3 separate regions of the Homo sapiens genome follow, and regions 1 and 3 are each linked to region 2. Evidence: fine-mapped expression QTL. A gene starts in region 2. Each other region holds a variant in brackets. All regions are shown on one strand. Distances are from middle to middle.

Region 1 (2,852 bases), 73 kb after region 2:
TTTTTTCCAAAATTCATTGTAGACCAATATTTTTGTAAGTACAATAAATATTAATTACTATGGGCAGGGTGTGGTACCTCACTCCTATAATTCCAGCACATTGGAAAGTAAAGGTGGGAGGATCACTTGAGCCTAGGAGTTCAAGACCAGGCAGGGCAACATAGTGAGATCCCATCTCTACCAAAAAATAAAACAATTAGCTTAGCATGGTGGTGCATGCCTGTAGTCCAAGATACTTGGGAGACCCATAACTTTTTCTTTTTTTTTTTTTTTCTTGAGACACAGTCTTGCTCTGTCACCCAGGCTGGAGTGCAGTGGCACGATCTTGGCTCACCGCAACCTCCACCTCCTGAGTTCAAACGATTCTCCTGCCTCAGCCTCTCAAGTAGCTGGGATTACAGGCGCCCGCCACTGCGCCCGGCTAATTTTTGTGTTTTAGTAGAAATGGGGTTTTGCCATGTTGTCCAGGGTGGTCTCGAACTCCTGACCTCAGGTAATCTGCCAGCCTCGGCCTCCCAAAGTGCTGGGATTACAGGCGTGAGCCACTGCGCCCAGCCAGAACTTTTTCATCTTCCCAAACTGCAACTCCTCAGTCATCCCTCCCTTCCCCCAGCCCCTGGCAACTACCATTTTACTTTCCATCTTTATGAATTTGACCATTCCAGGTCCCTCATATCAGTGGAATCATATAATATTAGTCCTTTTGTGTCTAGTTTCTTTTACTTATAATGTCTTTCATGTCTCCAAGGTACACCCATGTTATGGCATATATCAGAATTTCATTCTTTTTTGGCTGGGCGCGGTAGCTCACGCCTGTAATCCCAGCACTTTGGAAGGCTGAGGTGGGCGGATCACTGGAGGTCAGGAGTTTGAGACCAGCCTGGCCAACATGGTGAAACCCCTGTCTCTACTAAAAATACAAAAATTAGCCGGGCGTGGTAGCAGGCGTCTGTAATCTCAGCTACTTGGGGGGCTGAGGCAGGAGAATTGCTTGAACCCGGGAGGTGGAGGTTGCAGTGAGCCGAGATCTTGCCACTGCACTCCAGCCTGGGTGACAACAGCAAGACTCCGTCTCAACAACAACAACAACAACAACAAAGAATTTCATTCTTTTTAAAGGCTGAATAATATTCCATTGTCTGTATATACCAAATTTGTTTATCTATTCATCCATCAGTGGACATTGGCTTCCACCTTTTGGCTATTGTGGATAATACTGCTATGAATATTGGTATACAAATATCTGTTCGAATCTCTGCTTCCCATTCTTTTGGGTATATACCAGAAGTGGAATTACTGGATTACATGGTAGTTCAATGTTTAATTTTTAAAAATTATATATATTTTTTCTAGAGATGGGGTCTTACTATGTTTCCTAGGATAGTCTTATACTCCTGGCCTCAAGCAATTCTCCCGTCTCAATCTCCCAAAGTGCTGGGATTACAGGCATGAGCCACCGCCTGTAGCCCAATGTTAATTTTCTGAGGAACAGCCATACTGTTTTCACAGAGGGCTACACCATTTTACCATCACACCAGCAATGTACAAGGGTTCCAGTTACTCCGTGTCCTCACCGATACTTCTTTTCTAATTTTGCTTTTGTCTTTGATAATAGCCATCCTAATGTATGTCAAGTGGTATCTCACTGTGGTTTTGATTTGCAGTTCTGTAATGAGGTTGAGTATCTTTTCATGTGCTCA[G/C]TGGCCATTTGTATAGCTTCTTTGGAGAAAGGGCCATTCGAGTCCTTTGCCCATTTAATTGGACTATTCATTTGTTTTTTGAGTTGAGTTGTGGGAGCCCTTTCACTCCATCTTAATTACCATAGTTTTCTGTGTCTTAATATCTGGTAGAGGACAAGCCCCCAACCCCAACACACACCTGTCTGTTGCTCTTGTTTAAAAGCGATTTGTTATTTTTTGGCCCTTGACCCTTCCCTGTAAGTTTTGGAATCAGCGTGTTCAGTTCCTTTTTAAAAACCTGTTAGGATTTTGATTGGAATTGCCTAGAATATACAATTTAGGGAGAACAGATATATTTACAACATTGCGTCTTTCTGTCGTGAACATGCTGTCTCTCCATTTATTAGTTCTTCTTTAATGTCTTTAAGTAAAGTTTTACCATATTTTCCATAAACGATTTCACATATTTTGTTAGATTTATTCCTGGGTAATTGATATTTATTCATGCTATTATAGATGGTATCATTCAAAATTACATTTCTTTTTTTTTTTTTCTGGGATAGAGTCTCCATCTGTCACCCAGGCTGGAGTGCAGTGGCACCCTCTCAGCTCACTGCAACCTTGGCTTCCCAGGTTCAAGCGATTCTCTTGCCTCAGCCTCCCGAGTAGCTGGGACTACAGGCCTGTGCCATCACGTTCGGCTAATTTTTGTATTTTTAGTAGAGACAGGGTTTCGCCATGTTGCCCAGGCTGCTCTCAAGCTCCTGACCTCAGATGATCCACCTGCCTTGGCCACCCAAAGTGCTGGGATTACAGGCATGAGCCACCGTGCCCGGCCTCACAATTACATTTCTAACTGTTACTGGTGTATAGAAGTGCAGTTGACTTTTACATATTGATTTTATATACAGAAACCTTCCTGAACTCACTTACTAATTTTAATAATTTATTTGTAGATAATGTTGGGTTTTCCACGCAATCATAATATCTGCACGTTTTTTCTTCCTTCCCAAGCCTTTACACATTTTTTTCTTTTTCTTTTTGTGACAGGATCTCACTCTGTAGCCCAGGCTGGAGTGCATTGGTGTGATCTCTGCTCATTGCAACCTCCCCCTCCCAGGCTCAAGCAATCCTCCCACTAGCCTCCCGAAGTAGCTGGGACTACAGCCGCAC
Region 2 (2,500 bases):
TCGCTTGAACCCGGGAGGCGGAGGCTGCGGTGAGCCGAGATCATGCCACTGCACTCCAGCCTGAGCAACAAGAGCGAAACTCTGTCTGAAAAAAAAAAAAAAAAATCCCAATATGCCAAAGCAGCTCTGTCAAAAACCTTCAACGCTCACAAACATATCTAGTAATAACGAACGACTCATTAAAATGTACTATCTGTTCAGAGAAAAAAGTATTAATATATCTACAATACGAGACTGGGCTCCAAGAATATAAATCCAAATTGTACTGATTGGTCTGAATAAGCATTTTCCAAAATGAACAACCTGAACCTACACCACGAATACATTTAATTAGTTATAAAGCTTAGGACAACGCTAGTGATCTCAAACATTAGAACGTAAGCGCTGAAGCCTGCTCGTTAGTTCCTTTTACCTGGAGCTTTAAATTTCTAAAGCCATCATCTCCAGGGACCTCTGAAGGAAATTCAAGGCCAAGTATAGTATTTCATGATAAGTGAGAATAAAGGCACTCAATCCCTGGAGCCGGCGATTCCTGTTCCTGTCTCTAGACTGGACTCGGTAAAAGCCCGAGGCGAAACCTCCCGTTTATCTCCTACAGGACCCCAGCACCTTAGGGGATGGCTCCACAGAGCCCCACCGGGACCCCCCATCGCGGGGACCAGAGGGGCGGAGGAGGGAGACACTCTCCAAAACAAAGCGCCGCTCGCCCCACGCGGAGGCAGGCGCACCTTTCGCCCTGACAGGACGCAGACACACGTGTGTCACCTGTGCGGGAAGGGGGAGCAGCGACATCCTCGGAGGTGCGTGCCACGGGCAGCGGTCGGCGGCTGCGCTGGCCCCGATGCCTGGTGCCCGCCGCTCATTCCCGGGCTGGGGAAAACTTTCGGCCGCCTCCCCCAAGGCGCGCCCCCACCTCCCGGGACCCCCGGGGCACGCGCCCCGACCGCGACGCCCCGCCCCAGGCCCGCCCCTCCGCGCCCACGGCTGCGGCCCCGCGCCCCCAGCCCCGCGCGGGCACCCGCGTGCCCTCAGGCGCGCCCCCGCGCCGGGCCCGGCCGGCAGAGGGCGGGGTCGCTCACCAGTCCGCAGCTCGTGCTTGACAGTGAGGAGCTGCTCTCCTCCGTCGCCGCCGTCCGCGCTGGTCCCCGCGGCGCCGCCGCTGCTGCCACCCTCCTCCTCCATCTTCTCCTTTTTTTCCGATCCCGCGGGTCGCTACGAGGGGAACCCAGGAGACAGCGGACGCCCGTCCCCTCGCAGCCGCTGCCGCGGCCCCAGGAGTCGGGGTGCGGCGGCTCCAGAACTCGGACGCAAAGACGAGTCTCTTTCCCGCTCTGGCCGCACGGCTCGCTCCTCGCCTCCTCCCCCTTCGGCGGGCACCGCTAGTACCGCGCAACCAAACCGCCCCCTGCTCCACCGCCGCCTCCTCAGGCCGCTCCGCCCACAGCCAGCAAGGTAAGGGAGCCATTCGAGCCGCCTTCGCTGATTGGACACAGGGCGCGCGCGTCTGCCAACGCCGGTTCCCATTGGGCAGTACGCTGTGACGTTTCACGAGCCTCCCCGCCTCGCTCCTCGAATTGTTGTTGCTTGGCGGGGAGGCAGGAGAGGGAGGAGCGCCGCCACTCCGATTGGTGAGACCCAAAGCTCTGCCCCGCCCATTTCCTCTGGTGCGCACTCGCAGTCAAGACCTTCCCTTCCCTGACCTCCCCAGAACGGTCACACCCCTTATTCCCCAGCTTCGATCTGTTAGTAAACAGTGTCTAGTAGTCAGGAGGCGCTCGGGGTCTCTGATTGGCTACTGCCGAAAGAGGCGGGGAGGGATGATTGGAACGTTTGGTCCGCCAATCACCGTGGACAGAGGAGGGGCCTGGAGGGTAGCGCTTATCACCCACGTGTTTGCAGACAAACCTAAGGGTCCCGGCAGCGATCCATGCGTGTGTGACAACCAGCGAGACGGCGTGCCCTAAAAAGGTCTTACTCGCTCTAGTGAACCCTAAACAAGTTAAGCAGAGTGTTTGTTCTTAAATAACAGATAGTTCTTAAACGTTACAAAAATTCACAGTCCCAGCTCCCGATGAGGAATTTTACGAAGGAGAGACATTTCTGTTTCGTACAAGACTCTTACTAGGCGCCGAAAGGATGCAGAGATTAACAAAATAGAATACAATTCCTCCCCTAAGCAGCTTTCAATAGAACGTGAGAAACAATCTGTGTGTGTACACAAAAGAACTATAAAGCAGAATTTGAAATAAAGCAGTCGTACAAAGCGTTAGAGAATCTCGCACGGATGGCAATAATTATTCCCAGACGAGGAACTGGGGAAAGCTTTTAGGGCAAGGAGGCATTTGAGATAACCAACGTAAAGGATGGATAAGAGAGAAATACCAGCAATAGACATTCCACACAGAGAGAGTAACTGTGAGCATTGGCCTACAGCAGAGAAGGCAAGGGTGGGTTAAGTGATTGATAAGGTTAGATGAAAGTATGATGTAAGAGATACAGC
Region 3 (2,830 bases), 93 kb before region 2:
TTTATTTACATATTGTACATTTTATTCTAAAAGCTAATTTACATGTATTCTGCCAGAAAGTCAAGTTGGGATCTGGCACCAAAGAGGCAGACTAAAGTCCAAGGACAATTTTCTCTCTGCCAGGCACAGGGTCTAGCCCTATCGAATACAAGGCACTAATACTAGTTGCAAGGAATGAGTAAACATGTAATATTGCAGTAACTAACTGCCGTAGCCACATAAGTATTAAGGTAGATTCTTCATCTTAAGTTTCAGCATTGATAAAGAGTAGAAAGAAATAGAAAAGAAGAGAGAAAGCAAAAGAGAACTGGTAATAACAGTAAGAACATCTTTCTTGATGGGCATGTCTCAAGTTCTGAGCTCTTCCAAGAGATAAATTCAGGATAAGTCTTCAGACTTATTCTGTTTACAACTGAAGAACAAAAGAAAACTATCAATAGTCCATCTTTATGACAATAATTAAAAATAAATAGGTAGGGCTAACTCTAATACATGTTCTCAGAAGCTGTCAGGCAAATTTCATTAATGTGACCCTTCCAAAAAACATTTATCATCCCATTGAAATTGACTTACAGTCCATACAATGGAATACCTTATATGATCCTTGTGCCAATGATTTGTTTCTTGATTAAAAGAAATGTCATGTAAATGATTATATCTTAATTCCTTTGTATTTCTTAAATGGTCTTCTTTATATGTAGGATGACTAATATTCTATAACTGCAAAATATTAATATAAATAATTCTAACTTCCACATAAGATTGTCATGAGGATTAAATGAGCTACTGAGGATTATGAGCCAGGCATACAGTAGGCATTTGTTAAATAATAACTAATAGCTCCTATTATTATTTACAGGCATCAGTTACAATTTATAGACTTGAAAAATACTGTCAAGCTTAATTATAATGACTTAAATATAAAAATCAAATTTATTGTGCCCTGACTTACATACTCAATGTGGTCATAATTTTAAGACTTATGAATGTTTAACATATATTTCCATAAAGTACTACCAGGGTCTAATTACTTAGTATTAAGCTAAAGAGAGATTTTCTTATATAACTGATATTTCAGTGCAATCCTAAGTTTTAAAATTGCAGAGATATCTGGTTTTTATTCAAGTGCAATTAACTTGCTTTTAAAGATTTTTATGTTCTGGTATTTGGAATGCCAGATGAAGCACTCTGATACTGTGTCTCTAAGAAGCATAAAAATAACACAGAAATCACACAAATAATGTGAAAATTCAAAAACATAAAATTTCTCCCATTTTAAAACACACTACCATCCTCCCTAAATCCCACGTGTCCCATCTTGTCTTTCTTCTTTATTTTACTGCCAAACTTCTTTAAAGCGTGGTCTACATGGCTGATGCTCCTTACCCACTGTTCCCTTCATATTGCTGCTATAGGAAGTTACCACAGACTTAGTGGCGTAAACACTATGAATTTATTATTTTATAATTTTGTACACTCGAAGTCTGACATGGACATCACTGGACTAAAATCAAGGTGTCAGCAGGACTGCGTTTCTTCTGGG[G/A]CTCCAGGGAAAAATCTGTTTCCTGGCCTTTTCTAGCTTCTAGATACAGGCCACCCACATTCCTTGGCTTCTGGTCCCTTCCCTCATCCTAAAAGGCAGCTATGGCAGCTGAGTCACTTCTCACATTGCATCACCTGACCTTCTCTGTAGACACATCTCCCTCTCACCCTCCTCTCTCCTCCCTCCCTCCCTCTTCCTATTGTGTAAGGACCCTTGTGGTTACATTGGCCCCACACCAGATAATTCAGAATAATCTCTCAATTTTAGAGTCAGCTGATTAGTGGTCTTAATTTCATCTGTAATCTTAATTCTTCTTTACCATGTAGCTCAACATACTGACAGGTCCTGGGGGATTAGAATGTGGGCATCTCTGGGAGGACATTATTCAGTCTACCACAGCCTCTATTCATTCCTTAACATACTACAGTACAACTTCTACCTCCATGATAACACCATAACTTAAAGCTAAAAATAACCTCTTGTTACTAGAGTCAATGAATACTTTTCAGTCCTCATATTACTTAACTTTATGCCCTTTGCAAAGGGCAAAAAGGAAAAGAGTGTTTCAAAGGCAGCAAAATAGCACAAAAACTGCCTCTATGGATCAGCCCAAATTGAGCCCCTCAAAAATGGTTATGTTAACCCACTGAATTTTGGGTTAGTTATGCAGAAAAAGACAACTGATATATTAGCAACTTGTAGATCATGCTTATAACTTAAGTGTCTTGTTCAAGATCACACAGTTAATAACCAAAACAATCTTTTTATTTTAGCAGAATAATAGCCCTTTAATTTAGGTCACACATCTTTCATATTAGGAAAACAATTTATATTTCATTTCAATGACACATAATTTATGCAGATATTTAACAGTAGCAAGTAGATTTCACTTTGTTATTATGAAATAATATTTCCTTCTTGGATTCAGAATAGCAAGCCGTGTGTGTGTATGTGTGTTTGTATGTATATGGAAAGGCAGGTAGAGAATGGAGGAGAGAAAAATAGCCTTTAAACCAGTAAATTTGTTTCTTAAAACAGTAAATTAATTCTGAGAATTTGAACTGAAGATCTCTACAAAATTTCCAAGATTCTTAAGCAACTCATATCATTCTGACAATTAATACCTTATGGAATTAACGTTAGGGTAAAACAGCACGTGCTCTCCATCAAAATTCTGACTTTCTAAGTACATACTGTTGCACAGTTTCAGGCTGCTCGTCTTTGCACATCTGATTTGACTTAACGTTGAACTCAGAAATCTCTCCATTGTTCTGCAGTTCATACACT

Direction of the effects. Alleles are on the strand shown, and positions count from the first base shown. SD is a standard deviation of normalised expression in the study named. Not every link is listed here.
For the expression in Th1/17 cells of the gene that starts at base 1,389 in region 2, A is the low allele of the variant in region 3 and G is the other (large effect, 0.77 SD a copy in Schmiedel 2018).

Evidence for each region. PIP is the estimated chance that this variant, and not a neighbour inherited with it, causes the effect. A credible set is the group of variants that fine-mapping cannot tell apart.
Region 1: its variant is the best candidate, but not a certain one, in a credible set for the expression of RPS6KA5 in whole blood (TOPMed, PIP 0.84).
Region 3: its variant is the best candidate, but not a certain one, in a credible set for the expression of RPS6KA5 in Th1/17 cells (Schmiedel 2018, PIP 0.54).

Annotation. Positions count from the first base shown.
Region 1 is chr14:91,132,221-91,135,072 of GRCh38, forward strand. The region is part of intron 1 of DGLUCY (D-glutamate cyclase); the gene reads left to right. Among named protein-coding and RNA genes, the nearest start is that of SNORA11B, 7.2 kb to the left of the region's middle. The variant G/C (reference allele first, on the strand shown) is at 1,701.
Region 2 is chr14:91,059,253-91,061,752 of GRCh38, forward strand. It overlaps RPS6KA5 (ribosomal protein S6 kinase A5), which reads right to left and starts at 1,389. Exons shown (of 17, transcript NM_004755.4): 1 at 1,080-1,389. The coding sequence starts at 1,182. It also overlaps a transcript of DGLUCY not described here. RefSeq lists silencers at 842-911, 982-1,111, 1,482-1,541, 1,762-1,891 and an enhancer at 1,119-1,699.
Region 3 is chr14:90,966,575-90,969,404 of GRCh38, forward strand. The region is part of intron 3 of RPS6KA5 (ribosomal protein S6 kinase A5); the gene reads right to left. Among named protein-coding and RNA genes, the nearest start is that of RPS6KA5, 93 kb to the right of the region's middle. The variant G/A (reference allele first, on the strand shown) is at 1,544.